Homo sapiens: one gene and its partners. The protein of the gene in region 2 binds, or shares a complex with, the protein of the main gene of each other region. Each region holds a gene or a part of one and is shown on either strand. Other genes may lie near its edges.

The links.
Region 1: MED20 (region 2) and MED21 share a complex: the UniProt entries of both Homo sapiens proteins name them as parts of the mediator complex.
Region 3: MED20 (region 2) and MED16 share a complex: the UniProt entries of both Homo sapiens proteins name them as parts of the mediator complex.
Region 4: MED20 (region 2) and MED25 share a complex: the UniProt entries of both Homo sapiens proteins name them as parts of the mediator complex.
Region 5: MED20 (region 2) and MED4 share a complex: the UniProt entries of both Homo sapiens proteins name them as parts of the mediator complex.
Region 6: MED20 (region 2) and MED12 share a complex: the UniProt entries of both Homo sapiens proteins name them as parts of the mediator complex.
Region 7: MED20 (region 2) and MED19 share a complex: the UniProt entries of both Homo sapiens proteins name them as parts of the mediator complex.

Annotation. Positions count from the first base shown.
Region 1 is NC_000012.12:27,025,222-27,029,109, forward strand, and holds part of MED21 (mediator of RNA polymerase II transcription subunit 21), read left to right. Parts: intron 1-1,198; coding exon 1,199-1,313; intron 1,314-2,125; coding exon 2,126-2,226; intron 2,227-3,063; coding exon 3,064-3,240; 3' UTR 3,241-3,888. UniProt on the Homo sapiens protein: Component of the Mediator complex, a coactivator involved in the regulated transcription of nearly all RNA polymerase II-dependent genes.
Region 2 is NC_000006.12:41,904,560-41,908,782, reverse strand, and holds the end of MED20 (mediator of RNA polymerase II transcription subunit 20), read left to right. Parts: exon of another isoform or gene 1-24; intron 25-1,495; coding exon 1,496-1,711; 3' UTR 1,712-3,429; downstream 3,430-4,223. UniProt on the Homo sapiens protein: Component of the Mediator complex, a coactivator involved in the regulated transcription of nearly all RNA polymerase II-dependent genes.
Region 3 is NC_000019.10:875,524-880,103, reverse strand, and holds part of MED16 (mediator of RNA polymerase II transcription subunit 16), read left to right. Parts: coding exon 1-167; intron 168-2,923; coding exon 2,924-3,130; intron 3,131-4,580. UniProt on the Homo sapiens protein: Component of the Mediator complex, a coactivator involved in the regulated transcription of nearly all RNA polymerase II-dependent genes.
Region 4 is NC_000019.10:49,824,126-49,828,705, forward strand, and holds part of MED25 (mediator of RNA polymerase II transcription subunit 25), read left to right. Parts: intron 1-4,323; coding exon 4,324-4,422; intron 4,423-4,580. UniProt on the Homo sapiens protein: Component of the Mediator complex, a coactivator involved in the regulated transcription of nearly all RNA polymerase II-dependent genes.
Region 5 is NC_000013.11:48,087,879-48,092,458, reverse strand, and holds part of MED4 (mediator of RNA polymerase II transcription subunit 4), read left to right. Parts: intron 1-2,040; coding exon 2,041-2,107; intron 2,108-4,580. UniProt on the Homo sapiens protein: Component of the Mediator complex, a coactivator involved in the regulated transcription of nearly all RNA polymerase II-dependent genes.
Region 6 is NC_000023.11:71,131,931-71,136,377, forward strand, and holds part of MED12 (mediator of RNA polymerase II transcription subunit 12), read left to right. Parts: intron 1-142; coding exon 143-276; intron 277-446; coding exon 447-608; intron 609-914; coding exon 915-1,026; intron 1,027-1,192; coding exon 1,193-1,282; intron 1,283-2,426; coding exon 2,427-2,536; intron 2,537-2,782; coding exon 2,783-2,918; intron 2,919-3,161; coding exon 3,162-3,323; intron 3,324-4,350; coding exon 4,351-4,447. UniProt on the Homo sapiens protein: Component of the Mediator complex, a coactivator involved in the regulated transcription of nearly all RNA polymerase II-dependent genes.
Region 7 is NC_000011.10:57,705,941-57,710,023, reverse strand, and holds part of MED19 (mediator of RNA polymerase II transcription subunit 19), read left to right. Parts: intron 1-4,083. UniProt on the Homo sapiens protein: Component of the Mediator complex, a coactivator involved in the regulated transcription of nearly all RNA polymerase II-dependent genes.

The DNA of each region.
Region 1 (3,888 bases), on a different chromosome or scaffold from region 2:
GATCAGGATCTAGGTTTGTATAGCATCTGAGCACTTATTGCTCCATTACAATTAGCAAAACCTGGGCAAAGCCATTTAGTCATAAGTGACTTTATGACTAGTTAGATAAATATGAAGGAGTAGTGGAAAACGAGTCAGTAGAGTTGACTTAGATTATTGAAAGCTTCAAAACAGCCTGAGTTGGAGATTTATCTTGAAGACAGTGGTGGAGTAAGCTTAAATGTTTTGATCAGGTTAAAATAAATAACCTGGTGAACTGGAAAACAACAAGAAGACTATTGTAATAATTCTGGTGTGAGATAATTGGTTGAACTAAGCAACAGTGATAGAAGGAAAAGAGAAAGATTTGTAGTATTAGCAGAATATGAAGATCAAAGGAAAGTAAGAATCTGAAGTTAGATTGGTTGACTAGGAGACTTTCAATACAAATTAAATATTAAAAAGAGGAAACAGTTGCCTTTGAGTTCTGTCATTGAAACAATGGCAGAGAAACCCAGTGGAAATACTTATTAGAAATAGGAGGTTTGAGAGGTCAAGACTAGGTGAGAGAAATTGGTAGGGAAGATAGGTGTATTTAATTTGGAGATGGTAAGGAATTGCTATTCCCAATCTTTAAAAGTACTTAAGGAATACTTTTAGAGTACAAGAGTTTACAAATTGAGTCTTGAACAAATACATTTCTGCTTACTTAAGGTGCTTTTCTGAGCAGCCTCTTCCTCACTATTTCTTTACACTTGTAACTACTCCAGTCTCAGAAAAGGAATCATATACTTTGTGCATGAGAAATAAATTTTTATTAAACATGGTGCCATAGATATTTACAAGTCAAATTTGCTCTTTTCCATCACTATCCCCAAAAAGTCTTTACTTGTGGCTTACAATAAGTATTGGCCAATATTCTCTTATCATTTTACTATCACAAGAAAAGAAAGATTATTTTGTATTTCAACTGTTTCAACTAGATTTATATCAAATTTAACTTTACCTAGATTGATACCAAACTTAGTTTCTTTGCAGAATTAAAACGTTTAATCAACATTAATAATAACTGGCTTATTTTATCAACAATCACTCCTTTCTGTTTTATTCCCTTGCTCAGAGATTATCATTACAGAAACTTATTGTTGTTGCCATTACCAATAAAGTCCTTAAAACTGATAAGTCCTTTCTAACCTTGATATGTTTTCTTTGGCCTAAGCTTGCAGATCAGTTTTGTAATGCCATTGGAGTATTGCAGCAATGTGGTCCTCCTGCCTCTTTCAATAATATTCAGACAGCAATTAACAAAGACCAGCCAGCTAACCCTACAGAAGGTAAACAGGTTTTCTTAGCTTCTCTTAGTTTGACTCTCACATTTTTTGTAATCCTTTAAAATTAGATTTCTTGAGAAATTCAGCTTATTTTATTTCTAAAATTATTGTTGTTTGAGAATATTACAAGTTTTGTTTGTTGTAAAAAATTTACAGTCAATTCACCTAACATCTCATAATTCTGGTTCATGTCAGATAATAGATTGTTACTCCTTTAGAGGAGAATTTGTATTAATTTAGCTGAGTGAGGGACCTTAACAAGGAAGGCATCCCATTTATAAATTTCTTTATTCAGGTGACCACTATATTGTCATAATAAATGAAATTACATACATTATGCTTAATTCCCAATTTGAGCTAAATGTGTAACAGGATTGGTGTATATTTTAATCATTAGAATCTTCTTTTTTTTTTTGAGACGGAGTCTCGCTCTGTCACCTAGGCTGGAGTGCAGTGATGCAATCTTGGCTCACTGCAACTTTCGCCTCCCGGGTTCAAGGAATTCTCCTGCCTCAGCCTCCTGAGTAGCTGGGATTACAGGCTCATGCCACCACGTCTGGCTAATTTTTGTATTTTTAGTAGAGATGGGGTTTCACCATGTTGGTCAGGCTGGTCTCAAACTCCTGACCTCGTGATCCGCCTGCCTTGGCCTCCCAAAGTGCTGGGATTACAGGCGTGAGCCACCACGCCTGGCCGAATCATTAGAATCTTAGGGCAGAAAAAGCTATATGAAGTTTCTGGTTTCATTAACTTAAAATTTGTTTCTGAAAACTTGAGGTTTTCTAATATCCTAATCTAGCAGTATCTTTCTCTAGAGTATGCCCAGCTTTTTGCAGCACTGATTGCACGAACAGCAAAAGACATTGATGTTTTGATAGATTCCTTACCCAGTGAAGAATCTACAGCTGCTTTACAGGTAAGCCTCTATTCCTTTGAGAATTTTACCAGTAATAGAGAATTTTGAATTAAAGGAGGTAGATTTAGTACCTTTTGTCTGTGTCCATTTGTGCTGCTATAACAACATACCTGAGACAGTAATTTATAAAGAACAGAAATTTATTTTCTCACAGTTCTGGAGTCTGGGAAGTCCAAGATCAAGGCATTTATTACTCACTGTGCATGAGTAATGAATTTTTATTAAACATGGTGCCATGTTTAGGGCCATGTTGAGGGCCTTCTTCCTGTTTCCTCACATGGCTGAAGGCAGAAGGGCAAAAGAGCAAGAGCTCCCTCTTCAACCTCAAGCCATATTTTAAGGGTACTAATTCCATCTATGAGATCTCTGCCTTCATGACTTAATATCCTCTTAAAGGCCCCTTCCCTCTTAATACCATCACATTGGGGATTAGATTTTAATGTATGAATTTTGGAGGGGATGCATTCAAATCATAGCACCTTTTGTTATAATATTCAAATTTCCATTATAAGGAAACCTCTTATTTTCCTCAATTTTGTCTCTTTTCCTAGTGAAGAATGAGAGGAGGGTGGCATTCTACAATTGGAGTAGAATAATGGTGTCTAAACGTAATGTGTAAGGGAGTCACTTAAAGATATCTAGAGATCTCTAATTGAAAAGTCATTCTTTTTAATAATTCACATGGGGAAAATTCTTAAAAGTTGTCTGATTTTTAGAATTTCTTTACTGAAAAACATATCACAATGATTGCAAAGTCATCCAGATTTAAAAATAAGTACATCTGTGACAGCTTCTCTTTCTAAACTCTAAAGATTTTAAAATTTGTGTCTTATAAAGGCTGCTAGCTTGTATAAGCTAGAAGAAGAAAACCATGAAGCTGCTACATGTCTGGAGGATGTTGTTTATCGAGGAGACATGCTTCTGGAGAAGATACAAAGCGCACTTGCTGATATTGCACAGTCACAGCTGAAGACAAGAAGTGGTACCCATAGCCAGTCTCTTCCAGACTCATAGCATCAGTGGATACCATGTGGCTGAGAAAAGAACTGTTTGAGTGCCATTAAGAATTCTGCATCAGACTTAGATACAAGCCTTACCAACAATTACAGAAACATTAAACACTATGACACATTACCTTTTTAGCTATTTTTAATAGTCTTCTATTTTCACTCTTGATAAGCTTATAAAATCATGATTGAATCAGCTTTAAAGCATCATACCATCATTTTTTAACTGAGTGAAATTATTAAGGCATGTAATACATTAATGAACATAATATAAGGAAACATATGTAAAATTCTGTTATGACATAATTTATGTCTCCATTTTGTTGTATTGGCCAGTACTTTTACAAATCAAAACATCTCTCAAGCCAAAGGAGAAGACAGTAAGAACAGACATAAGGGACATTTTAGTTTGGGCTAGTGTCCTGCCTCTTAGAGGTGGCATTGTGTAAATCTGAGCTTTGAGCAAGAAAGTTTTGGAAATTGTGTTGCTTTTAAGAAATAGAGTTAGTGTGGCTGGATAAGAAAGTCACATTTATGCAAATGTTTCTTCTGCTAGAACCTCATACCTGTTCTAGTTCATCTCCACGTTTATTTTACCAAGAGATCCTCTGTCAAGAGAATTTCCTGGCTGTTGTGAAAGAATTTTTCTACATCC
Region 2 (4,223 bases):
AGCTGGCAAGTAGGAAGCGGGAAGCTGGGTTCAAAGCAAGCAGAAAGCTTCATTAGGAAGGGTGGCTTGCTGGAGAAGGGAAAAGATAGTCAAGGAAGGCAGGTGAGTTATGATATGGAGGGACAGTCACCCATGACAAGAAGTTCTGGAGCAGACCAGGACAACTCTTAGAACAATTTTCTGGCGGTGGGCCCTAAATCACATATGCCCATATACCTTTCCTTAGTATGCTTTAAGATAGGTTGGGAAGCAAAAATGTGCTTTTCCTTTTGACATGCTGTCTGCTTTCTTTCATGGTAGAAAGAGTGTTTGTGTGTGAGATCACTTCATCTGTGACACAGAGAGTGTGTGTGTGTCTGTGTATACATACACATATATAGTGACAAGGAGTGAGAGTGGCAGTGTAGCAGTGGCTGGCTTCTTTGGGACCAGGGAAAGTTCACAACCTATAATGTGCCCAGCACTGAGATAAGAAAACAAGTAAGCTTGCAGGTCTACCCTTTGAAAATTTGTGATTTATTTATTAAGAGTGAGGCTGAAACACACAAACTCTTTTTGAAGTTAGTCTGAAAATGCTATAAAAGAGGCAGTTGGCTCTGGGAATTCAGGCCAGTGTGAACACTGCTGACTTTGGTTGTGATGCTTCCTGAGGATCAACATTTATGTAGGGATTTAAAATGTAGAGACATGGGGATAGATAAGTCTAGGAAGAATCCCAGTTGGAGAAAAGGGCATTAGTGGTAGTTTCTGCTCAGCAACCTCTAGGACCAAGACTTCTAACCCTTTCGGCTTGTGATAGACCTTGGATTTGCTGAGACCCACTGAGGACCCGCTGTTTATCCTCCACATTTCTAATCTTGTAGTAGAAACACACTCCACCTGTTTCTTTACTTATTTCTCCTTAGGGTTGCCAGTAATTTTGCCCTGCCATCTCTCCAGTAAAAAATTAAGAGAGCAGAAGGAGAAAACCTAAGATGTATATTTTTTGGCCCATGACACACTATTTGGGAAATTCTTTCTTAGGGTCAGAACCCAGGTTGGTTCTACTTAGGGAGTAAAATTTGGTCTTGAAAAAAACTCATGAGCATATGTGTCCACTCTACTCTCTACTTACCACCCCCACACACATTTTCCTTCTCTTTCTCTTTGTTGTGTCTCTTAGAATTTTCTTGAGCTCTCCTTGAATCTTTACCCAGCATAGCAGGGACAACACAGTCCTGAGATCATCAAAAGGGGCCCAGATCTGCTTCTGGGTCCTCTGGGAGGGCTGCGGGTTGGCACAGCTCCAGGATGAGAAGGTCAAAGATGCCTAAAGATGCTGGGTATTGAGCCCAGTGTTTAGGTTGAATGTTTCCTGTGGACCAATACTGTGCTAGGAGGTGTGTGTCTTTAGCTCGGGGTTGGGGAAGATGGGAGCAGGAGGCAGGAGGTACAAGAGAAGCAGACCTTGTCTTAGCCTTCATTCACCCTCATTCTCTGTGCTTTTGGTTCCCAGGTGGAGTATGGCCCCTGTGTGGTAGCTAGTGACTGCTGGAGTCTGCTGCTCGAGTTCCTACAGAGTTTTCTAGGCAGCCACACACCAGGGGCTCCCGCAGTGTTTGGGAACAGACATGATGCGGTCTACGGCCCAGCAGATACCATGGTCCAGTACATGGAACTCTTCAACAAGATCCGCAAGCAGCAGCAGGTGCCGGTGGCTGGGATTCGTTAGTGATGAGCAGCTGCCAGCTGAGCTCTGTCACCAGGGGTACTCCACAGGAGGAGCAGGTGCTGACTTTCAGGTCCCTGGACCCCAGAAACCCAGGGTAGACATGGACTCTACTCTCCTTCTCTGGTTCTCAGCTGTGGCTTTTGTTCTGGGGCTGAGTCCCCTCCCCAACCCCCTGACTCTCACACATAGCCCCCCATCAGCTGTTTTACTCCGTGCCTTACTGGATTTGGCCTGTCCTCAAGAATGGTAATTATGAAGAGTGGAGAAGTTTGGACCTTGCCTCCTTTAGGGGAAAGGTAGGACAGGAATGTCCCTGCCTGGTACTGGTGGGGGAAATAGTCCGTATCCCCAACTATTAAGGATTTGTCCCAGGCCAATGGTGAACATGCTGCATTTTATGTTTGGATTGTGCTGTAATAAGAGCCTCTTCCTTCCCTCAGAGGATGTGGCTGGGCTTCTATCCTAGAGATGGAGTAGAAGGCACAACTGGTTTGATAGTTACTATTTTCTGACCTGTTTGCTGAAGTGATTTGCGAATTGACTTTCCTAGGGTGTTGCCTGAGTCCTTTGAAATCTCCTTCTGACATCTTTCCCTTCTGTTGTGAAATATGTTAAGCCACAGGCCAAACTGCTATAAGATCGAAGTTTGTTTTTTTCTCACCTAATAATAGAGAGGTAATCAGATGGTCTAGGGCAGATTTAACTCTACAAGGTTATCAGGAACTTTGTTTCCTTCTGTCTTATTCAGCCATTCCCAGTATGTTTTCTTACCCATAAGATCAAAGCAGACTCATCAGCTCCATATCTGCATTCCACTGGGGAAAGAGAGAGAGAAAAGAGCAGATTTTAAAAAAAAGATATGACTGAGCATTGCTCAGATCACTGTGGCCACACTTTGCTGAAAGAGATGCTGGGACATAGAACCTCTTATCTGGGCAGTCATGTGCTGAGTTAAAACTCAGGGATTCTGTGACTACAAGATGAAAGACAATTTGGTTGCTGAGATGCAGTTAATGGCTTCTGTTACATGGAGCTCAATGGACGTGCCCAGGAATGCTTTTGGCTGTTATTTTGCAGTTAATACCTCCTGTAACTAAAGCATTTGTTTATGAGTTGACTTGAGAGAAGGGCTGATCTCAGAGCCGCTTTGAGCTAAGTTGGATTAGTCACACTAGGAAGTTAATTCCACACCTTTCGTCTAAGTCTCAGTATTGAGGCCTCTCCAGTTCTCATGCACCCTGATCTTAGGGTTAGAATACTTGACCCTGATACCTGCACCATGCTTCATGGTTCCTGAGCTCTTTCTCCTGTTTCATTTGAGCCTCCAAACTACATATTTGGTCATATTGCCTGCCTACCCCATGCCTGCTGCAGAAATATTCATCCAGGTTAACCTTGATATACACAGAGATGGTCTTGGAGAATTGTGAATGTATGTACTGTATTGTCATCAAGGATACTGTCCCTTATTTGAAGGCATCTAAAGAGAAACTGTTTTCAGATCCAAGTGCTCAGATCTAAAGCCTCTGCAACAAGTCAGGTGGTGGTCATGTTTCCCTTCTAGTTTTGGCTGACAGGAAGCTCAGTTCAGTACCATAACTACAGAACCTGTCATCTGTATTTTTTGTTCTCACCCCGTTTTTGTTATTTTGTTTCTGGTTTTTTATATTGAGGTATGTTTTAGATATAGTTTACAAAAATAAAACGCACAGATCTTACCTTTTTGGCCTCCTGATTTACATTTGCTCTCGTCCAGGTTTATTTATTTGTATTTTTCTGTAGGCTGCAGCTTTTATGGAATGAAACAATGCATAGGCAGCATTTTGAACACAATGCATTTCCTGAAAATCTCCAGAAGTTGATCGTGGTAAATATAGACTCTCTAGACTTATGCATCATAAGGAGGGACTCTGTTCCCTAAAAGCTAAAAAGCAGTATAAAATCCCTAACTACACTTGGCTTTTATTTTGTTTTTTTATTATTATTATTACTTTTGAGATGGAGTTTTGCTCTTGTTGCCCAGGCTAGAGTGCAATGGTACAATCTTGGCTCACCACAACCTCCGCTTCCTGGGTTCAAGCGATTCTCCTGCCTCAGCCTCCCGAGTAGCTGGGATTACAGGCATGTGCAGTTAATTTTGTACTTTTAGTAGAGATGGGCTTTCTCCATGTTGGTCAGGCTGGTCTCGAACTCCTGACCTCAGGTGATCCACCTGCTTCAGCCTCCCAAAGTGCTGGGATTACAGGCGTGAGCCACCATGCCTGACCCTTATTTTATTTTATTTTTTTGCAATGGAGTTTCATTCTTGTTACCTAGGCTGGAGCGCAGCGGCGCAATCTCGGCTCACTGCGAACTCCGCTTCCCGGATTCAAGCAATTCTCATGCCTCAGCCTCCCGAATAGCTGGGATTAGAGGCGCCCACCACCACACCCGGCTAATTTTTTGTATTTTTAGTAGAGATGGGGTTTCGTCATGTTGGCCAGGCTGGTCTCAAACTCCTGACCTCACGTGA
Region 3 (4,580 bases), on a different chromosome or scaffold from region 2:
GGCTCTCACTGCAGACCATGGCCGTCTTCTACAGCTCCGCGGCCCCGAGGCCTGTGGATGAGCCGGCCATGAAGCGCCCCCGCACCGCGGGCCCCGCCGTCCACTTAAAGGCTATGCAGCTATCGTGGACGTCACTGGCCCTGGTGGGGATTGACAGCCACGGGAAGGTGAGCTGCTGGGGCACGTGGGGCCGGGGCTGGTGGGCATTGACAACCAGGGGAAGGCGAGCTGCTGGGCATTGACAACCAGGGGAAGGTGAGCTGCTGGGGCACGTGGGGCTGGCCCTGGTGGGGATTGACAGCCAGGGGAAGGCGAGCTGCTGGGGCACGTGGGGCTGGGGCTGGTGGGCATTGACAACCAGGGGAAGGCGAGCTGCTGGGCATTGACAACCAGGGGAAGGCGAGCTGCTGGGGCACGTGGGGCTGGGGCTGGTGGGCATTGACAACCAGGGGAACGTGAGCTGCTGGGGCACGTGGGGCTGGGCTTGGGGGGCATTGACAACCACGGGAAGGTGAGCTGCTGGGCATTGACAACCAGGGGAAGGCGAGCTGCTGGGGCGTGGCCCTGGTAGGCATTGACAACCAGGGAAAGGCGAGCTGCTGGGGCACGTGGGGCTGGGGCTGGTGGGCATTGACAACCAGGGGAAGGCGAGCTGCTGGGGCACGTGGGGCTGGGGTTGGTGGGCATTGACAACCAGGGAAAGGTGAGCTGCTGGGGCATGTGCGGCTGGGGCTGGTGGGCATTGACAACCAGGGGAAGGTGAGCTGCTGGGGCACGTGGGGCTGGGCTTGGTGGGCATTGACAACCATGGGAAGGTGAGCTGCTGGGCATTGACAACCAGAGGAAGGCGAGCTGCTGGGGCATGTGGGGCTCGGCTTGGTGGGCATTGACAACCATGGGAAGGTGAGCTGCTGGGCATTGACAACCAGGGGAAGGCGAGCTGCTGGGGCACGTGGGGCTGGGGCTGGGGCTGGGGCTGGGGGGTATTGACAACCAGGGGAAGGCGAGCTGCTGGGGCACGTGGGGCTGGGGCTGGGGCTGGTGGGCATTGACAACCGGGGGAAGGTGAGCTGCTGGGACATGTGGGGCTGGGGCTGGGGCTGGTGGGCATTGATAGCCAGGGGAAGGTGAGCTGCTGGGGCACGTGGAGCTGCGGCCGGGGCCGGGGCCGGGGCCGGGGCCGGGGCTGGTGGACATTGACAACCAGGGAAAGGTGAGCTGCTGGGGCACGTGGGGCTGGGGCTGGGGCTGGGGCTGGTGGGCATTGACAACCAGGGGAAGGGGAGCTGCTGGGGCACGTGGGGCTGGGGCTGGTGGGCATTGACAACCAGGGGAAGGGGAGCTGCTGGGGCACGTGGGGCTGGCCCTGGTGGGGATTGACAACCAGGGGAAGGCGAGCTGCTGGGGCACGTGGGGTTGGGGCTGTTGGGCATTGACAACCAGGGGAAGGTGAGCTGCTGGGGCACGTGGGGCTGGGGTTGTGGCTGGTGGGCGTTGACAACCACGGGAAGGTGAGCTGCTGGGGCATGTGGGGCTGGGGCTGGGGCTGGTGGGCATTGACAACCACGGGAAGGTGAGCTGCTGGGGCACGTGGGGCTGGGGCTGGTGGGCATTGACAGCCAGGGGAAGGTGAGCTGCTGGGGCACGTGGGGCCGGGGCCGGGGCCGGGGCTGGGGCTGGTGGACATTGACAACCAGGGAAAGGTGAGCTGCTGGGGCACGTGGGGCTGGGGCTGGGGCTGGGGCTGGTGGGCATTGACAACCACGGGAAGGTGAGCTGCTGGGGCACGTGGGGCTGGGGCTGGTGGGCATTGACAACCAGGGGAAGGCGAGCTGCTGGGGCCCGTGGGGCTGGGGCTGGGGCTGGGGCTGGTGGGCATTGACAACCAGGGGAAGGTGAGCTGCTGGGGCACGTGGGGCTGGGCTCGGTGGGCATTGACAACCACGGGAAGGTGAGCTGCTGAGCATTGACAACCAGGGGAAGGTGAGTTGCTGGGGCACGTGGCGCTGGGGCTGGGGCTGGGGGGCATTGACAGCCAGGGGAAGGCGAGCTGCTGGGGCACGTGGGGCTGGGGCTGGGGCTGGTGGGCGTTGACAACCACGGAAAGGTGAGCTGCTGGGGCACGTGGGGCTGGGGCTGGGGCTGGGGCTGGTGGGCATTGACAACCACGGGAAGGTGAGCTGCTGGGGCACGTGGGGCTGGGGCTGGTGGGCATTGACAACCAGGGGAAGGCGAGCTGCTGGGGCATGTGGGGCTGGGCTTGGTGGGCATTGACAACCACGGGAAGGCGAGCTGCTGGGGCACGTGGGGCTGGGGCTGGGGCTGGGGCTGGGGCTGGTGGGCATTGACAACCAGGGGAAGGTGAGCTGCTGGGGCACGTGGGGCAGGGGCTGGTGGGCATTGACAACCAGGGGAAGGCGAGCTGCTGGGGCACGTGGGTCTGGGGCTGGGGCTGGGGCTGGGAGGGTGCCAGAGGGAGGCGCCCCCGGGGGAAGGGACCACAGGTGCAAGCCCCTCGCCAGCCCCTGCCTGCGCTGCCTTGTCTGTGTGATGGGTTCGTCTTGTTGAGCGAGGTCAGTGGGGTGGCTCACAGCACGTATTAGGAGCTTCGTAACTAGGAGCTGTTGAGAGGACCGCCTTTCACGGGGTAGACTCCTCAGGTAAAGCAGACGAGTGTAAGCCTGGCTCGGCATCCAGTGCAGTCGGGGCTCAGGGAGGTTTCCTTCCCTGTTCCCAGAGGCATTGTGCATGACCCTGACAGAAAGGTACAGACGCTACAGACACATGCGCGCACACAGGCCCACACACGGGCGTGCGCGCACACAGATCCACACACGTGCCGCAGCCCCAGGGCCCCATTCCTCTCCCGGCTGAGGGCGCAGCCCCATCTCACCGGGCTCTCCTTGGGCTCTGTCTCTGGCAGCTGAGCGTGCTCCGCCTCTCACCTTCCATGGGCCACCCGCTGGAGGTGGGGCTGGCGCTGCGGCACCTGCTCTTCCTGCTGGAGTACTGCATGGTGACCGGCTACGACTGGTGGGACATCCTGCTGCACGTGCAGCCCAGTATGGTACAGAGCCTGGTGGAGAAGCTGCACGAGGAGTACACGCGCCAGACCGCTGCCCTGCAGCAGGTGGGGGCCCGTGGCAGGTGGGGCCCCGTGGCAGGTGGGGGCCCTGTGGCAGGTGGGGGCCCCGTGGCAGGTGGGGCCCCGTGGCAGGTGGGGGCCCCGTGGCAGGTGGTCCCGTGCCAGGTGGGGCTGTCCCTGTGGCAGGCAGGGGCCCCGTGGTCAGTAAAGTGCCAGCAGCAGGGAGGGAGTTCCCTTGGAGGGTGGAGGAGGTCTCTGCAGCAGTTGTAGAGGTCCCCACGGCAGATGTGGGGGTTGTGGCAGCTGGAGGGGTTTCCCTGCGGCAGGTTGGGGGCTCTATGGCAGGCGGAGGGCAAGAGGGGCAGGTAGCCTGTGGCAGGTGAGGCTGCGTGTGGGGTGTGCTCCCAGAGGCCCGTCCAGGAAAGCTGCACCTCAGAGAAGCAGTTTCCTTCCTTACCTGGGAAGTTTCTTCTGTAACACGTTAAGCCCCACAGGTAAGGCCTGATCCCCCCTGGACGGCTCCCCTCTCCAGTGTTCCCAGTCTGGAGGTATCTTTCTAAGCCATCCTCTCAGAATGTGATGGGTACCAGGATGCACACCCGGTGGCCCTGTGGTGTGAGGCCTCAGCAAACACGGTCAGAAGATGAACACACAGAGACCCGCCCGTCGGAAGGAGAGGAGGGAGCGGATACGGAGGCCCACGTGCCAGAAGGGTCCCTTGCAGTGGTGTGGTTATGTGCCTGCAATCCCAGAGTGTCCTCGAAGGACCTCAGATCTAACGAGCTCAGCCGGCAGCTGCACGTGGGACCAGCCCTCTGAGCTTCACTTGTTTTCCTCTGTGCCATCAGAAACCAATACGAAGATAAAATGGGAAAAAAAAAATCCCATTCACGGCACAGCCTGCCGAGAAACGCGTGAGACCCAGGCGGGGGCTGCGAGGCTAAACCCCAGCGTGGCTGGGATCCGTAGCCAGTGACAGCGCTAGTGATGGCGAGACCTCGCCCTCTCCCTCCTTGGGCCGTCGCTGTGTGCCAAGCGTTTCATTTTTGTTTTTAGTTGTTTCTATTTTTTGTAGAGATGGGGTGTCCTACGTTGCACAGGCTCTCCAACTCCCAGCCTCCAGGAATCCTCCAGCCTCAGCCTCCCAAAATGCTTCAGCTCATTCATTCATTCTCTCTAGACCAGGGTCTCCCCGTAGGCACCACAGACATCGGGGGCTGGAGCAGCCTCTGGGATGGGGGTGTCCTGTTGAGCAGCCTCCCCAGCCTCCACCCGTTACTTGGCAGGGGCACCCCCAGTGGTGACAACTAAAAATATCTCCAGACATCACCAGGGGCCCCCACCAGAGGCAGAGCCGCTCCCAGCTGAGAACCCAGCACCTGGTCCTGTGCGCCTGGTCTTCCGCACCTGTTTTGCCATGAGGTTGCTGAGGTGCAGAGGCGAAGCAGCTTGCCCAGCTGACCGAGCGCCTGGTGTCAGAGTCGAACTGCTCTTC
Region 4 (4,580 bases), on a different chromosome or scaffold from region 2:
GGTAAATTCTGTAGAATGAATGTCCAGAATGCATTTAATACTAACCACCCTGGAAGACACTGCATAGCCTTCCAGACCCAGCTCAGGTGTCTTATACCCTGGGAAACCTTCCCGATTCTTGCAGCCAGATGCTTCCTCCTCTGCCTCCATGACCTGTCACAGCCCCACACCTCTGGACTGTGAATGTCCAGGTCCCTGGGTGCTTCTGCCATTTGCTTCCAGCTGGGGCTTGGCACCCACGGGGCTTCAGGAGACTGGCTGAATAAATGAATTAGTATGTAATACAAAAACAACAAATAAATAGAAAAAATTAACCAGGCATGGTGGTGCACACCTGTAGTCCCAGCTACTCAGGAGGCTGAGGTAGGAGGATCAACTGAGACTGGGAGGCAGAGGTTGCAGTGAGCCGAGATTGTGCCACCGCACTCCAGCCTGGGTGAAAGAGCGAGACCCTGTCTCGGGAAAAAAAAAAAAAAAAAAGAGGTGGAAGGAAAATAGACCCAGTGTGTTTCCCATAACATTATGACAACTCAGTTGTTCATTCATATGTTCACTCATTAATTCAACAAATGTTTGTGGAACAAATCGTCCTGGGCACCAAGGAGTTAGTGGGCATGAGATAGGCAAGGTCCTGGCCCTCATGGAACTAGTTTGCCTGGGTGACAGGCCGTGTGTAGGGAGCCCTTGGTCATGGCCGGATGCTGTTAACATTCACTCATTTTGACCTCCTGGGGCTCCAGGCACCTGTTAGCCGATGAAAGCGGGCAGCAGAGACCCCGGGGAATGATACTGGGTAGAACAAATGGGAGTAAGTTAGAGGACTTGGGAACACCAAGTCAGAGCCCACTTGTGTCACCTAGGGGGCTTTTATTTTTATTTTGTGTCTGCCATATCAAGGGGTTTATTTGGAATTTATCATAAACTTGATATTTTAGCCATATTTTGCAGCCAGCCATAGTGCTTCTTCTGTTCAAGTTTTCCACATTTCTTTGACAAAATGTTTATTACATGTCGCCCTTTGAGCTTGTAGCACATGACTTGTACTTAGTGTTCAATAAGAGAAACGCAAGTTTTAGCATCTCAAACTGGTTAGTTTATCACACTTTTCCTCATAAGGGTTTTGTTTTGTTTTGTTTTGTTTGAGATGGAGTCTCTCTCTCTCTCCCAGGCTGGAGTGCAGTGGCATGATCTCAGCTCACTACAACCTCTGCCCCCGAGGTTCAAGTGATTCTCCTGCCTCAGCCTCCCGAGTAGCTGGGATTACACGTACCCACCACCATGTCTGGCTGGTTTTTGTATTTTTAGTAGAGATAGGGTTTCACTTTGGCCAGGTTGGTCTTGAACTCCTGACCTCAAGTGATCCGCCCACCTCGGCCTCCCAAAGTGCTGGGATTACAGGCATAAGCCATTGCACCCAGTCACTTCCAACTGTTTTACAGGGTCATGCCTGTAATTCCAGCACTTTGGGAGGGTGAGGAGGCGGATCACCTGAGGTCGGGAGTTCGAGACCAGCCCGACCAACATGGAGAAACCCTGTCTCTACTAAAAATACAAAATTAGCTGGGCGTGGTGCCGCATGCCTGTAATCCCAGCTACTCGGGAGGCTGAGGCAGGAGAATCACTTGAACCCAGAAGTCGAAGGTAGTGGTGAGCTGAGATCGTGCCATTGCACTCCAGCCTGGGCAACAAGAGCGAAACTCCATCTCAAAAAAAAAAATTTATCACCCCAAAGAGGACACCCCATATGCATGAAGCACTAGCTCCCCATTCCCCCATCCCCCCATCCCCAGCCAGGGTGGTTTTGGCTCGAGTCCCAGAAAGGCCCAGGAAAATATTGGCTTAATTTCACCTGTAGCAGAACAGCTGGGTCCAGAGTTGGTTCACCCCAACTCTTTGCACACAGTTGAAGTTTCTGCGTGCAAAGCTGTCTTGATGCCGGGCACAGTGGCTCACGCCTGTAATCCCAGCACTTTGGGAGGCCGAGGCGGGTGGATCATAAGGTCAGGAGTTCGAGACCATCCCGGATAACACCGTGAAACCCCGTCTCTACTTAAAAATTAAAAAAATTAGCCGGGCGTGGTGGCGGGCACCTGTGGTCCCAGCTACGAGGGAGGCTGAGGCAGGAGAATGGCGTGAATCCGGGAGGCGGAGCTTGCAGTGAGCGGAGATGTGCCTCTGCCCTCCAGCCTGGGAGACAGAGCGAGACTCCGTCTCAAAAACAAAAGCTGTTTTGATGGCTAGGAAGAGGAGGGCTGGGAAGTGTGTGGTGGGTTGGGAGCAGCGCCCGAGTGCCCTGAGAGCAGGAAGAAGGCTCAGGGGCTCAGTGTGCTCACTGGCCGGGCCGAGTGGGACTGGAAGGAAATCAGTGCGAGAACTCAGGCAGGAAGCGGAGAGCCCCGCTGCATGGCCCTGCCAGGCCACCAGTGCACTGAGTACTCAGCAGATGGTTCCTAGGCCTTGTGTGACCTAGGGTCAGACGCCTTGGTGTCTCTCTTGGAGGGCTGCACAGGGTGCGGAGAGAAGCTTGACAGCTGCAGTATCGGGTGATCTATGATGTGACTAAGGGCAGGCCGTAAAATTAGGTGGCATGTAGGGAAGGCTTCCTATAGGAGGGCACACCAGGATGGGTGTCGTAGTTTAGCTGGATTCCATCCGGGCCGGAATGGGTGTGTTCCAGCACATGCAGAGACCTGGATGTCTGGGCTTTGTCAGTTGAGAGGACCTATAGGTGCGGGCATGGAGCAGGAGAGATGGACGGGGTGCAGGACTCGGAGGCCTCGGATGCTGGGCCGATGCCGGGCCGAGGGCCTGGGTTGGTTCCAGTCTTGATGGACACGGTTGGGCCTGTAGACGTTCATTCACTTAGCCTACATTTCCTGAGGCCTCACATGTGCCCCGCTGTGGTGGGCAAGCCTGGGGGTAAGAGAGGACTCAGACCCCATCCCCGCCTGTGGGAGAGGTAGGATCAGAGACCACACTTCAGGGGGACAGGGCCCTCAAGACCCTCAGAGGGGTGCTCGGTCTCCACACACGTCCCCTGCAGCAAAGGTCAGCCTCTCACGACCACGTGACCGGAATAATGGTGGCAACCACAGCTGCCCTTGAGGAGAGGCCATCCCCGGGCCACAACCCATGTGGGACGGATGCTGCGACGCGACTGCAGATCAGGCGGAGGAGAAACGAGAGTCTGTGTGTGTTAGTTTCCCAGGCTGCCGTAGCAAAGTATGAGAAACTGGCCAGAAGAATGGAAATTGATGTCTCAGGGTTCTGGAGGCTGGAAGTCCAAAATCCAGGTGGTAGGGCCAGGCTGTCTCTGAAATCTTACAGGGGAAGGGCCCTTCTGCCTTTCCTGGTGCCTGCTGAGGCTGCATCACCCGTCCTCACATGGCCTCTCCCTGTGTCTCTCTGTGTCCTTGTGTCTTCCCTCTGTGTGTGTGTCCGTGTCCACGTTTCTCCTTTTCACAGACACCAGCCATAGTGGATTAGGGCCCGCAATTTAACTCGATTACCTGTGTAAAGATCTTTCCAAATTAGGTCACCTTCTGAGGTACTGGGGCTTAGGACCTCAACCTGTCTTTTTGAAGGGGGCACACTTGAACCCATAAGACTAGGAGGACAGAGGAGGCCCCCGTCTCTGGCTGGGAAGGTGAAGTGGGGCCAGGACTGATTTGGAGCAGACAGCCCAGAGAGGGGAGGGGACAGCAGGAGGCTGGGCATGGAGTCAGTCACTCCAGGGTTGGAGTCAGCACAGGATCCTAGGCTTGGGGTCCCCAGCCCTTTCCCATTCCCTCCCAGTCCTCATGATTAAAGACAACAAATGTCGGCCGGGTGTGGTGGCTCACTCCTGCAATCCCAGCACTTTGGGAGGCTGAGGCAAGTGGATCATGAGGTCAGGAGATGGAGACCATCCTGGCTAACATGGTGAAATCCCGTCTCTACTAAAAATACAAAAAATTAGCCAGGTGTGGTGGCAGGCACCTGTAGTCCCAGCTACTCGGGAGACTGAGGCAGGAGAATGGCATGAACCCAGGAAGCGGAGCTTGCAGTGAACTGAGATCATGCCACTGCATTCCAGCCTGGGCGACAGAGCGAGACTCCATCTCAAAAAAAAAAAAAAACACAGACAGCAAATGTCCCCTGTCCTGTCTGGGACTGGTGCTGTGCTAGCACCAGGGATTGGGTAGGGAACTCAGCAGGGTCCCCGTCATCCCAAGGTGCATAGCCCAGGATAGAGTGGGGGACAGCATGGGAGCAGGCTCTTCAAGCATAGCCTGGGGATGGGGATGATGGCAACCCTGGGGGCTGACCGCTCTGCCCCTGCAGGTTCATGGGCGGGGGTGGTGAGAGCTGCAGCCTCATCGCGGAAGGACTCAGCACAGCCTTGCAGCTGTTTGATGACTTCAAGAAGATGCGCGAGCAGATGTGAGTGCCCCCTCCACCCAGGCCGGGCCGGTCTCTCTCTGCCTGGCCTGGAACCACTTTGCCTGTCGAGTGGTTCTACCTCCAGCCTCACCCTGTAGGGCATGGGCTCTGTGTCCCCAAGCACGCTGAGCCAGGAGGCTGCAGGTGTGTCCTTGGGG
Region 5 (4,580 bases), on a different chromosome or scaffold from region 2:
TTTAAAATAACCCAGTGGCTTCTCATTGCATTTAGAATGAAACACTAGGCCGGGCGCAGTGGCTCATGCCTGTAATCCCAGCACTTTGGGAGGCCGAGGCCGGCGGATCACCTGTGGTCGGGATTTCGAGACCAGCCTGACCAACAGGGAGAAACCCCATCTGTACTAAAAAAAAAATACAAAATTAGCCGGGCGTGGTGGCACATGCCTGTAATCCCAGCTGCTAGGGAGGCTGAGGCAGGAGAATTCTTTGAACCCGGGAGGTGGAGGTTGGGGTGAGCCGAGATCGCGCCATTGCACTCCAGCCTGGGCAACAAGAGCAAAACTCCATCTCAAAAAATAAAAAATAAAAAAAGAATGAAACACTAATCTTTACCATAACTATAAGGCCCTACGTAATCTCACCCCTAGCCACCTGGCTGCTACATCCTCACTTTGCTTTCCTCTCCCCATTGTGCCAGGCCCTGGCTACACCTCCTCAGCTCCATCTTTGGGGCACTGAACTGTCTGTGTCTTCTACTGTGCTCTTTCCTTCCAGACATCTTGGCTGACTTCTCTCATTTAATCCGTGTCTTATGTCAAAGCTGTGCCCTTAGGAAGACCTTCTCTGACCACCCTATTGAAGTAGCCAACCCACTCCCCCAGTAGTCTCTAATAAAACATTGCTTTATTTCCTTCCCAACCCTTATCACTCTAGGTTTATTTCTTCTCTTAGTTCTTCTTGTCTCTTGTATTAGAATTTAAGTGCCATTGTTCACTTTGATACCCCAAGTATCTAGAAAGTGCCTGGCACATGATAGGCACTCAATAAATATTTGATGAATTAGTGAATAAATGAAGACTTTGCATTCTTATATCTACTTTTTTCATTCATTGATTAATTCATAAATAATGGTATGGGGAAGTAGTAGTGGGAAGGGTTGGGTCTAATTGACATGATCCAGAAAAATGATATGATGCTAGCTGGAAGGAAGGTGGAAATTTGAAGGTAAAAATAGCCTGGTAGCCAGTGAGAAAGTACAAATGCTCAGGCTGATCAGAGCAGTGTCAGGTAGCTAGTTGTGAAGCTGCCCCTTCTGCATAATTTCTCAAAAGTCCCATCTATCAACAAGTTTGAAACTAATATATAAACATTACCTGCTATACATTTTTCCCAATCTTATTTTGCTCATCAGATACTAATTTTCATACAGGGAAATTGTCATATTTATTAAATGAGCATTCTAAAAGGATATCATTTTATTATGTGTAAGGATCCCTCTTAGTTGATGTTTAATTTAAAAAATTCAAATAAAGTGGAGAATCATTAAAAAATGGTCCATGCATCCCTTAATTGTTTTATTTTACCTTAAAATATATAAACATATGTTCATTCACTAATCATGTTATGTAAGACAGGAGTCAGAAAACTTTTTCTGCAAAGGCCAGATAATAAATACTTTTGGGTTTATGGGCCATATAGTCTCTGCTGTAACAACTCAACTCTGCCTCTGTATTTAGGGAAAACTGCCATAGACAATTTGTATATTAATGGGCAGACTGTCTTAGGAAAATGTTATTTACAAAAACTGCAGAAGTGCTGGATTTGGCCTGTAGACCCCTGATGTATGAGTTTTTCTTGCATAAATCGCTCATAATGCATTGTCTGCAATTTGTAGTTTGATTTCTAGATCAAATCAAAATGAGAACTTATCCTCTTATCAAGCAGTCTTAGGGCAGACCCTTAGTTTTTATGACTTTTCCCTGGTCCTTTCTTTATAGCTGTCCTTTGCAAGCCTCTGTAGAGTCTTTCCAAGCATTAGGCTTAGGTTTTTATAGAAAGAACTCTCTCTATTCACAATAGTCTTTCATTGGCATTTAGGTGATAGCTATTTATATAATGATAGTATTAAGTAGAACTTTTATAAATAAGTTTGGTAACCGGCACAAGCGAGTCTTGGTGAGCTGTAGTTCACAGTCAATAGCGGACTGTAGGGAGTAGCCCTGAGTGTTCAGTATGCTGTGAAAGGGTTTTTGTTGTTGTTGGTTTTTTTTTTTTAGGGAACTTATAGAAATGCTGGCAATTTCAAGAAACCAAAAGTTGTTACAGGCTGGAGAGGAAAACCAGGTAAGTGGCTTCTTTTTAAATTAGTTAATTTCTCTTTGTTTTTTAATTAAAAGAAAAAAACTTGATTTCTGCAAGTTTCCTCTTTATATTTACTTTGTGTGGGAACAGGAATGTTGGATCCTTTTAAGTTATTAATTAAAACTTTAATATTGGTATTTTCTTTGTATCATTTACTTAAGATAACAGTGCGCTTAAGAAGAATAGTTGCCTGAGGGTTTAGCAGTATTTTGTTATTTTCTCTTACAATTCTAGTCACACTTACATGTTTATTTATTTTTGTCCTTTGAATTAACCAAGAAAGGCTTGTTGTATGGAGATTACAACAATATTTAGAATCAAAAGTTAATGCTCAAAAACTTACCGTGTATTGTAAGTATAGTTCCCTAATGCAACTTGAACATGCAGGGAAATAAAAGAGCATACAACTCTTATTAGACATTGCCTTATAGGGGTGAAAGTACGGGCAGTTTTTATTTGCTCACTTTTCGGTGCTTTCTAATTTTCCATGGTGGGTGAACAGACTTTTTTTCCTGATTCAGAATTTTTTTAGAGGTAAGAGGATAAATTTTATATTATGTTTTTGGCACAGTTTTTTCTTTTTTGAGACAAGTTCTCGCTCTGTAGCCCAGGCTAGAGTGCAGTGGCATGATGACTGCTCACTGCAGCCTCAACCTGCTGGACTGAAGCGATCTCCCACTTATCCTCACCAGTATCTGGGACTATAGGCATGCGCTATAATGCCTTGCTAATTTAAAAGAAATTTTTTTTTTTGGTAGAGACATAGTCTCACTGTGTAGCCCAGGTCAGTCTTGAACTGTCTTGAACTCCTGTCCTCAAGGGATCCTCCCCACCTTGGCCTACCAAAGTGCTGGGACTATAGGCATGAGCCACCATAGCTGGCCAAAAAAAATGTTTAAGAGAAAATGAATGGAGAGGATTAACCTTTCTAAAGATGATGTAAAGGAGAAGAGGAGACAGTAATAAATCTTTTGTCTGCATCATTACCTTAGTTCTGTCTTACGTTTTGAGGGCAGGGAAATCTGACGGACTCAATAGAAAAGTGTCAGTGAGCCTCAAAAGGGGAGGAGGGGATCCAGATGAGGCCACAAGCTAGGAGAAACAGCTAACCTTAGGGGTAGTAAGGTTTTTGTTTTGTTTTTTTTCAAAAAAGAAAGAGGCTAGAGATAAATATGTTAATAGAAGACTACTAGTCTCTCAGGTACTCTGTTAATACCCGTGGGATTAAATAGGAATTTATACAAAGTATGCAAGAAGTAAAATGCAAGGCTTGACTTTATTTGATAGACACTTATTAAATGCTTGCTATGAGCCAGGCACACAGATTATTCAGAAGGTGATAATTAAGACCTATAATCAGCACTGATCTTTCTTGCACTTTTTAAAGAGTAGCAATTTGTGAATTGTGTCTTAGTACTGTGGATTCCTATGTAATTTTCATTGAAACTGTTACTATTAGAGAGGGATGTGCCCATTTGAAAATTTTCTAGCCACCATTTTATTTGGATATTTATAATTTTATATAGAATTTTAGAATTAGAAAGGATCTTAACGATGTTCAGTTCAACCTCCTGTGAGAATAAGCTCCAGGGTGGACGGATGAGGTAGAGGTTAATGGTGAGTGGAACCAGAACCTAGGTCTTCTGACTTTAGTTGAATAATTTTTTTCTACTGAACAATAAGATCTAAAGAGAATATTTTTTACTCATGGGTAGTATACAAATTAATTCAACCTGTGTAAACTTCTTGAAAGTTGTCAGGGAACTACTGTGTACTACTTGCTTTAATAATACAGCTTTTATAGAAATGGAAACCTAGCTTTCTCCTACGATGTGGGAGGAATGAGGATTAGAAGTCTGTTAAATAAATAGAATATACTTTACTTTTTACAGAAAAAGCTTTCTGTTGTTATTTAAAATACTCTTAATATTTGGCAGTTTGTAGCTCAGTCTTTTGTCTATTGTATTAGAAGAATTCCTATAAAATGAGAAGAACTTCATGTCAAAAGGATCTTGAAGAGGCATACCTGTACTTTTTAGTCTTCAACAAATCTTTTTAAATAGTTTTAAAATTGATTCTGAATTTTGATAGATATTTTCTTTCTGAAGTAGTATTCTCTACTTAGCACAGTAAAGGATATTTAGACTAGACTTGCATCTTAATTCTGTACTGGGGTAGTGATCGTAATAACTAGCCTTTGCTGAACTCTTCCTGTATGTACTTAAAGTGCAATATATCATGAATCCTCACAATAGCTTCATGTAATGGCTACTATTAATATTATATTCCTTTTCCTATTAAGAACACAGGCTCAGAGAGGCTGGTAACTTTCCCTGTGTCACACAGCTAGCAGATGGAGGACTAGAGATATGAACCACCAGACTTTCTATTTTATGTGTTTTAGCCTTCATGGTTTTTGCCGTATCTGCATACCACTTGTTTGTTTACTGTTTTA
Region 6 (4,447 bases), on a different chromosome or scaffold from region 2:
TCCCAACAGAGTTGCGTTCCTATCTCCCCATCAATCTCCGCCAGTGTTGTCCTTCTCCGTCATCTCCGATCTCTCCTACCATCTGCTTTCCTTCACCCTTAGCTACCTATTTTAGCACTTCTGTGCCTTTCATCCTCCCCAGGAGATGAACTCCCTCTTGGAGAACATCGCCAAGGCCACAATCGAGGTTTTCCAACAGTCAGCAGAGACAGGGTCATCTTCTGGAAGTACTGCAAGCAACATGCCCAGCAGCAGCAAGACCAAGCCTGTGCTCAGGTCGGATAGAAACATGTTAGGACCCATCCCCTTAGGAGTTTATCTGCTGGTAGCGTGAGTGATATCAGATGCGTGGAGATGCCAGCATGTCCATCAGGGAAAGGAGAGGATAGATTGTTCCAGCCTTGCCTGGCTCCCCTGTGACCCTGTGTCCTCTGTCTGTTCTCCAGCTCTCTAGAGCGCTCTGGTGTATGGCTGGTGGCCCCCCTCATTGCTAAACTGCCCACCTCAGTCCAGGGACATGTGTTAAAGGCTGCTGGGGAAGAATTGGAGAAGGGTCAGCACCTGGGTTCCTCTTCACGCAAAGAACGTGATCGACAAAAGCAGAAGAGGTAAAGGGGCTTAGGGAGTGGACCAAGATTGAGGGGTAGAAAGGAGAAGAGGCAGGCCCGGGGAAGAATAAAATGGGCCAAGGAGAAGCATCATAGGAAAGTGGAAAATCAGAGGATAAGAGTGGGCATGGCTGAGCAAGAGGCTAGATCTTAAGAGAGTAGTCTGGAGAATGAGGTTGGAAGTTGACTCCCAACCCACAGTCTCCCTTTTCTCCTCTCCTCTTCTCTCCTCTTCTCTTCTCTTCTCTTCTCTTCTCTTCTCTTCTCTTCTCTTCTCTTCTCTTCTCTTCTTTCTCTTGTCTCTAGCATGTCCCTATTGAGCCAGCAGCCCTTCTTATCGCTGGTGCTAACATGTCTGAAAGGGCAGGATGAACAACGCGAGGGACTCCTTACCTCCCTCTACAGCCAGGTGCACCAGGTACAGATCTCTGGGCCATGGAGGTGGGCAGGAGGTCAGGGAAGGATGCACCTAAGGGGTTACTCTGTACTTGGAAACTTCAGTACTTTCTGATAAACATATTGGCTGCTGTGGGATGGAAACACGAAGATCCCTGAGCTGCATATTTTATTTGTTTCTATTCTAGATTGTGAATAATTGGCGAGATGACCAGTACTTAGATGATTGCAAACCAAAGCAGCTTATGCATGAGGCACTCAAACTGCGGCTCAACCTGGTGAGAAGGCCAGCTGGGGAGAAGAAGGAAGAGGGTAGGGCTGGAAATGCGGAGTGCAAAAGCCTCAGGTTGGGGAGAATGGGGGTAAGGATAGAGGCCCCAGGTTATTCTGAGTCTTGAAGGGTTTTTTTTTTTTTTGGAGTCAGAGTCTCACTCTGTCACCCAAGCTGGAGTGCAGTGGCGCCATCTCAGCTCACTGCAACCTCCACCTCCTGGGTTCAAGTGATTCTCGTGCCTCAACCTCCTGAGTAGCTGGGATTACAGGTGTGTACCACCACACCTGGCTAATTTTTGTATTTTTCATAGAGATGGGGTTTGACCATGCTGGTCAGGCTGGTCTTGAACTCCTTACCTCAAATGATCCGTCTGTCTCGGCCTCCCAAAGTGCTGGGATTACAGGCATGAGCCACCGTGCCCAGCCTGAGTCTTGAAGTATTAACCTTGTTCTCTGAAAGTATGCAGGGACTGAAAGTGGTTAAGGGGGCTGGATCACTGTGGTCATGGTCCAATAGGTTATGTACCCTGGATCCTTGCAGGGCCTCTGCCTCAGTATCCTAGATTCTGACTGGGCCCTAGAAGCACTGGAAACCCACTGTGGAATGTTGAATGGAATCCTGGAAATCATTCTGTCCAATTCCCATCACTTTCTAAGTATGGAAACAGAGGCCTAGAGACGTCAAGAATTCCGTCATTGTCTTGAGATCATGTAGCAAATCATAGGCTCAACTCAAGCATGGCCGGGCGCGGTGGCTCACGCCTGTAATCCCAGCACTTTGGGAGGCCGAGGTGGGCGGATCACGAGGTCAGGAGATCGAGACCATCCTGGTTAACACGATGAAACCCCGTCTCTACTAAAAATACAAAAAAAATTAGCTGGGCGTGGTGGCAGGCGCCTGTAGTCCCAGCTACTCGGGAGGCTGAGGCAGGAGAATGGCGTGAACCCGGGAGGCGGAGTTTGCAGTAAGCCGAGGTCGCGCCACTGCACTCTAGCCTGGGTGACAGAGCGAGACTCCGTCTCAAAAAAAAAAAAAAAAAAAAACTCAAGCATGAACTCAGGCGTCCCAACTCAGATTGGAACTAAGCTTTCCTGAAACTCTGGCCTTTGTCCCTGAGCCATCTGACTGACTTGTTGTGGCCCTGGCAGGTGGGGGGCATGTTTGACACGGTGCAGCGCAGCACCCAGCAGACCACGGAGTGGGCCATGCTCCTCCTGGAGATCATCATCAGCGGCACTGTCGACATGCAGTCCAACAAGTAAAGCATCCCCACCCGCTCCCTGCAGTTTCATACCCAAGAAGCTCCCCCTACTCCCATGCCAGGTGCACCCACTGAGATTGGTGTGGCTGTTACTGTGGACTCCGTGGCCCTGGGCTCCCCATACAGTTTTGGTGCCCTTGGGATGACATATTAAGCACCTCTCCCTGCTTGTGTCCTCTGCTGAGGCCTTTTTCTATCTTCACCTCTTTCTTCTTTGGTTTTCTCTCTGGCTTCCTGTCTCAGTGAGCTCTTCACTACTGTGTTGGACATGCTGAGCGTGCTCATCAATGGGACATTGGCTGCAGACATGTCTAGCATCTCGCAAGGTAGCATGGAGGAAAACAAGCGTGCATACATGAACCTGGCGAAGAAGTTGCAGGTAAGCAGAGGAAGCGGGGGCAAGGTTTGCGGTTACTGGAATCTGCTGTCCAGCCTCAGGAACTTGCTTCTGGCTGGAGCCCTCTACCTTTCCTTCTCACGTCTGCCTTTTCTTTGTTACTCATGCCGTGAGCATTTACTGAGTGGGGGTCTTCTCTGTGCCAGGTTCTGTGCTGTCCCCTGAGACTTCCCATCCCTGTTTTCTGTATCTCTGAACTCTTGTCCCATCTTCCTGTGCCTGCAGAAGGAGTTGGGGGAGCGCCAGTCAGACAGTCTGGAAAAGGTTCGCCAGCTGCTGCCACTGCCCAAGCAGACCCGAGATGTCATCACGTGTGAGCCACAGGGCTCCCTTATCGATACCAAGGGCAACAAGATTGCTGGCTTCGATTCCATCTTCAAGAAGGAGGCATGTTCCATTGTCTGCCCGTGTCCCTTGCCTTTTTTCCCCTTTGGGCAAGAACTTTGCCTGCATCAGCTTTGTAGCTCCAACAGACTCATCAGATTCAGGAGCCCATCAGTCTCTGCCGGTGAACACCATCTCTGGGGTTTTGAGCAAATCACTTAACTTTCCTTACATTTCATCTCCATCTTTGAAGTCCCACCCTCTTTCCTTCACCCTGCCCTCACCTTTTAACATACCACCCATTTTTCAATACCCTACCCTCCTCTTTCCTCTGCTCCACCTGCCCCATGTCCTACCCCACCCATCTATCTGGCCGACAGCCTGTATCTCTTTTATTTCTGTGTTTCCCTACACCCACCCATCTCTGCACACTTTTATCTTTTCCCTCTCTGTCAGTTGCGGTATTTGTTGAGTAACCATAATTATTGTGTATAGTTTAAAACCCAAAGTCTAACTCCTTCATATATACATTCTCTTCATCTGTCTTCCTAGTCCATCTGTCTCTTTTCCTCCGTCTCTGTCTCTCTCCCTGTCTGACTCGTTTGCCTTTCTTTGTCTCTCCACCTTTTTGTCTCTCTCTTCCTGTTTCTTTCTCTCTCTGACTCTTTCTCGGCCTGCCTAAAGGCAGAGTCTCTCCCTGCCTTCCTCTCTCTCTTTCTCTGCCTTCCTTTTTCTGTCTTCCTCTGAATGTCAATCCCTCTCCCTCCCCGCTCCCTCTCTGGCTTTCTCCCCAACCCCTTTCTCTCCCGATCTTCTCTCCCCACACGCCCCCCGCCCCGTTAGTTCATCTCCTCTCCTGGTCTGGGCTGGCTTCATCTTGTGCCTCCACACCTCTCCCTGTGCCCCACCCTTCACTCTCTCCCCGCATAACTCTCTTCCGCATGTATATGTGTATCCATGTCTGTCTGTCTGCTTCTTACCATCTCTCCTGAATCTGCCTATGACTTTCTTTCTACCCATTCCTACAAATGCTTGCAGTCTTCTGTTTTCTAAGTCCCAACAGCTTATTGTTTTTCATTTTCTGGAGCAGGGTCTACAGGTTTCCACCAAACAGAAGATCTCGCCCTGGGATCTTTTTGAGGGGTTGAAGCCGTCAGCACCACTCTCTTGGGGCTGGTTTGGAACAG
Region 7 (4,083 bases), on a different chromosome or scaffold from region 2:
AAGCAGCCACATGACAAATAGAAAGTGGGGAAATTAGTCAGAAGTTACTGCTCAGTAGTCCAGGAAAGATAATGGTTTGAACCAGAGCATAGCAGGGCATAGAGAAGTAAATGGATACAGGATGTTAGAGGTAGAGCTGACAGGGTTGAAAAATTGAATACAGGGCCAGGCGCTGTGGCTCACGCCAGTAATCCCAGCACTTTGGGAGGCTGAGGTGGGAGGATTGCTTGAGCCCAAAAGTTTGAGACCAGCCTGGGCAACATAATGAGACCCCATCTCTACAAAAAATAAAAATAAATTAGCTAGGGATAGCAGCATGCACCTGTAGTCTCAGCTACCTAGGAAGATGAGGTGGTAGAAATCACTTGAGCCCAGGAAGTTGAGGCTGCAGTGAGCCATGATTGTGCCACTGCACTCCAGCTTGGATGATAGAGGAAGACCCTGTCTCAATTAAAAATATATATTGTATATAGAAGTGAAGGAAATAGAGGAATTGATGCCTTTTTAAGTTTTCGGCTTGAATAATTGGGTGTATGGGTACGGAGACTTGGAAGATGAGGAAGGAACAAGTTTGAAGAGGTGGAAATCAAGAGTTATTTTGGACATGTTTGGTCTCCAAGATGCCTCTTTTTTTTTTTTTTTTAAACAGAGTTTTGCTCTTGTTGCCCAGGCTGGAGTGCAATGGCACAATCTCAGCTCACCACAACCTCCGCCTCCCAGGTTCAAGCGATTCTCCTGCCTCAGCCTCCCGAGTAGTTCGGATTACAGGCATGTGCCACCACACCCAGCTAATTTTTTATTTTTAGTGGAGACAGGGTTTCTCCCTGTTGGTCAGGCAGATCTCAAACTCCCAACCTCAGGTGATCCGCCCACCTTGGCCTCCCAGAGTGCCAGGATTACAGGCGTGAGCCACTGCGCCCAGCCTCCCAGATGCCTTTCATTGTCTCAAGTCTTATTTCCACATCATGACTTGAGGGAAATAGCAACAAATATTGGTATAGTACTTTGAAGTTCACAACACACTTACATGCAGTATTTAATATAAGTAGTATTTAATACTTAGAATAGCCCTTTGAGGTAGCATTACTGTCTACATTTTATAATTGAAAAAACTGAAACATGGAGAAGTTGACATCCCTTTGATTAGTTAGTGGTTGATGTCCACCAGCGGTTTCTTTTAATCTTTCTTTTGCCTTCCCTATTCTGATTGTAGCTATTTGTATCAGTCAGTTGACAGATATTGAATATATGTTCTGGGCAAATGCTGGGTGTATGAGGCGGGTGAGATGGAGAGAGAGATTAGTAATGCTGGTCATTGCTTTTCAAGGAGTTTAGTTAGGAATGTAAAATTTGTGGTTTAAGGATAGTGACTATATTTCCTGTCACCTCCATCTCATTTTGTGCTCATGCCTCACAACAGCAATTAACAATATCTTAGCCATCAATATTAAGAACTACCTAATGGTTTTCAAAGTGTGTTGCTATCCAGAATGACAGTGAGAATAAGATGTCACTTGAGCTAGACCTTGAATAATCCATATTGGTGAAGAAAAATTAGGAAGAATTTTCCTAAGATGAAATAATGTGAGGGGTGTTTTTTTGAGGCGATAAGGAGATCCATTTGGATGGATCAGAAATTTTGCATAGGAGAGTAGTGGTTGATGAGGCCCCAAAGCTAAGTTGGAGTAAGATGTAATTAGCCTTGAGTGCCAGTCAAAGGAATTTGAGCTTTCTCCTGAGGGCAAAAAGAAACCATTAAGATTTGTGAACTGAGGAGTACTGATTTCCAAAAATATCTGGAACATGTGGGTGCCATGGATTGAAATAGAGAAGCCCTGAGTGATGTTGGCAAGATTTGGAATTTCAAAACAATTTTTTTTTTTTTTATCTTGTTGGGCAGGGTGGTTCACGCCTGTAATCCTAGCACTTTGGGAGGCTGAGGCAGGCAGATAGCTTGAGTCCAGGAGTTCAAGACCAGCCTGGGCAACATAGGGAGACCCCTGTCTCTACAAAAAATACAAAAATTAGCCTAGCATGGCAGTGTATGCATGTAGTCCCAGCTACCTGGGAGGCTGAGGCAGGAAAGTAGTTTGAGCCCAGGATGCAGAGATTGCAGTGAGCTAAGATTGTGCCATTACACTCCAGCCTGGGTGACAGAGCGAGACTGTCTCAAAAAATAAATAAATATAAAAAGTAATCTTTGTAGAATAGTCAAAACTGGAATTTGAACTCTCAAGTTACAGTTTAGAAAAAGCACAGACTGCCTTCTCACCTGAGCCTTAAGGATAACCATCTGGACAGAGGAGAGTTGGCAGAGCAGGGGAAATTCAGAAGATTGTAATGGCAAGAGGCAGTGCCCAGAGTTATGAGGAGAGATACTGTGACATTGGGTCTCCTGCCATTACCCTCGCTCAGTCTTCTGAGTTGTTTGGTAGTAAAGGGAAGGAAAAGGATGAATAAGGCCTAGAGGTATAGAGGGAAAGTGCCTTGTTTATTTAATAAATATTTATTAAGCACCTAATGTGTGTACTGTGCTGGGCACTAGCGATACATGAATGAACAAGACATTGTCTGTGCCTCCAAGGAGCTTACAGTTCAGTACCTCAGTTTTCCCAAGTGAATGATTATAAACAAGCCATTTTTGTCATTTGTACCCTCTGTGTCTATCATAATTACAAATGAAGTTGTAGTTAGCTATTTCTACCCTTGCTAGTAGGTCCTTATTAAGTTACTAATAAATGTATATTTTTTAAAAAAGAATCAGCCATGCAATATTTATATGGATAGTGCCTTGCATACATATAATACTTTTTTTTTTTTTTTTTTGAGATGGAATCTGACTCTCCCACCCAGGCTGGAGTGCAGTGGTGCAAACTCAGCTCACTGCAACTTCCACCTCCCGGGTTCAAGCAGTTCTTCTGCCTCAGCCTCCCAAGTAGCTGTGACTACAGGCGCATGCCACCACACCCAGCTAATTTTTGTATTTTTAGTAGAGATGGGGTTTCACCATATTGGCCAGGCTGGTCTCAAACTCCTGACCTCAGGTGATCTGCCTGCCTTGGCCTCCCAAAGTGCTGGGATTACAGGCATGAACCACTGTGCCAAGCCTGATACTTTATGCTTTTCAGCATATTTTCATTTGAACCTTGGGAGAAAATTATGTGTATGTAAGATAGCTATTATTCCATTCCACAGATAAGAGGAAACTGAGGCATGGAAGACAGCCAGAATAATTCTAGTTGCCTGACTTGTTTTTTTGTTTTTGTTGTTTTGTTTTGTTTTGTTTTTTTTGAGACAGGGTCTCACTCTCTCACCCAAACTGGAGTGCAGTGGCCTGATCTCAGCTCACTGCAACCTCCGCCTCGCAGGGATTACAGGTGTGTGCCACTACTGTCCAGCTAATTTTTGTATTTTTAGTAGAGACAGGGTTTCACCATGTTGGCCAGGCTGGTCTTGAACTCCTGACCTCAAATGAGCTGCCCGCCTTGGCCTCCTGAAGTGCTGGGATTACAGGCGTGAGCCACCGCGCCTGGCCATTAGTTGACTGACTTCTAATCAAACATTTCTTCCTGGATGCGTGCTGTGGCTCACACCTGTAATCCCGGCACTTTGGAAAACCGAGGCGGCGGGGGGTGGCGGATCACTTGAGGTCAGAAGTTCAAGACCAGCCTACTCAACATGGTGAACCCCCTTCTCTACTAGAAAAAAATTAGCCAGGCATGGTGGTGTGTGCCTGTGATCCCAGCTACTTGGGAGGCTGAGGTGGGAGAATCACTTGAACCTAGGAGGCGGAGGTTGCAGTGAGCCAAGATCGTACCCCACTGCACTCCAGCCTAGGCGACAGAGCAAAACTCCCGTCTCAAAAACAAAAAACATTTATTCCTTTTAGGCAAGGCATCATACTCAGTATCACGAGGAAGAATAAAGATGTTGGTAACAAGTTAGGCAGTGGTAGCTAGAAAAAAATCTCCCAGTTCTTTTCTTATGTAAAGGTGATTAGTGTTTCTTGCTAGTAAAAAAAAAAAAAAGTCCTTGACAAGACCCTTAAGTCACTGGGTCATATTTGGCCCCCTGAGCATGGTT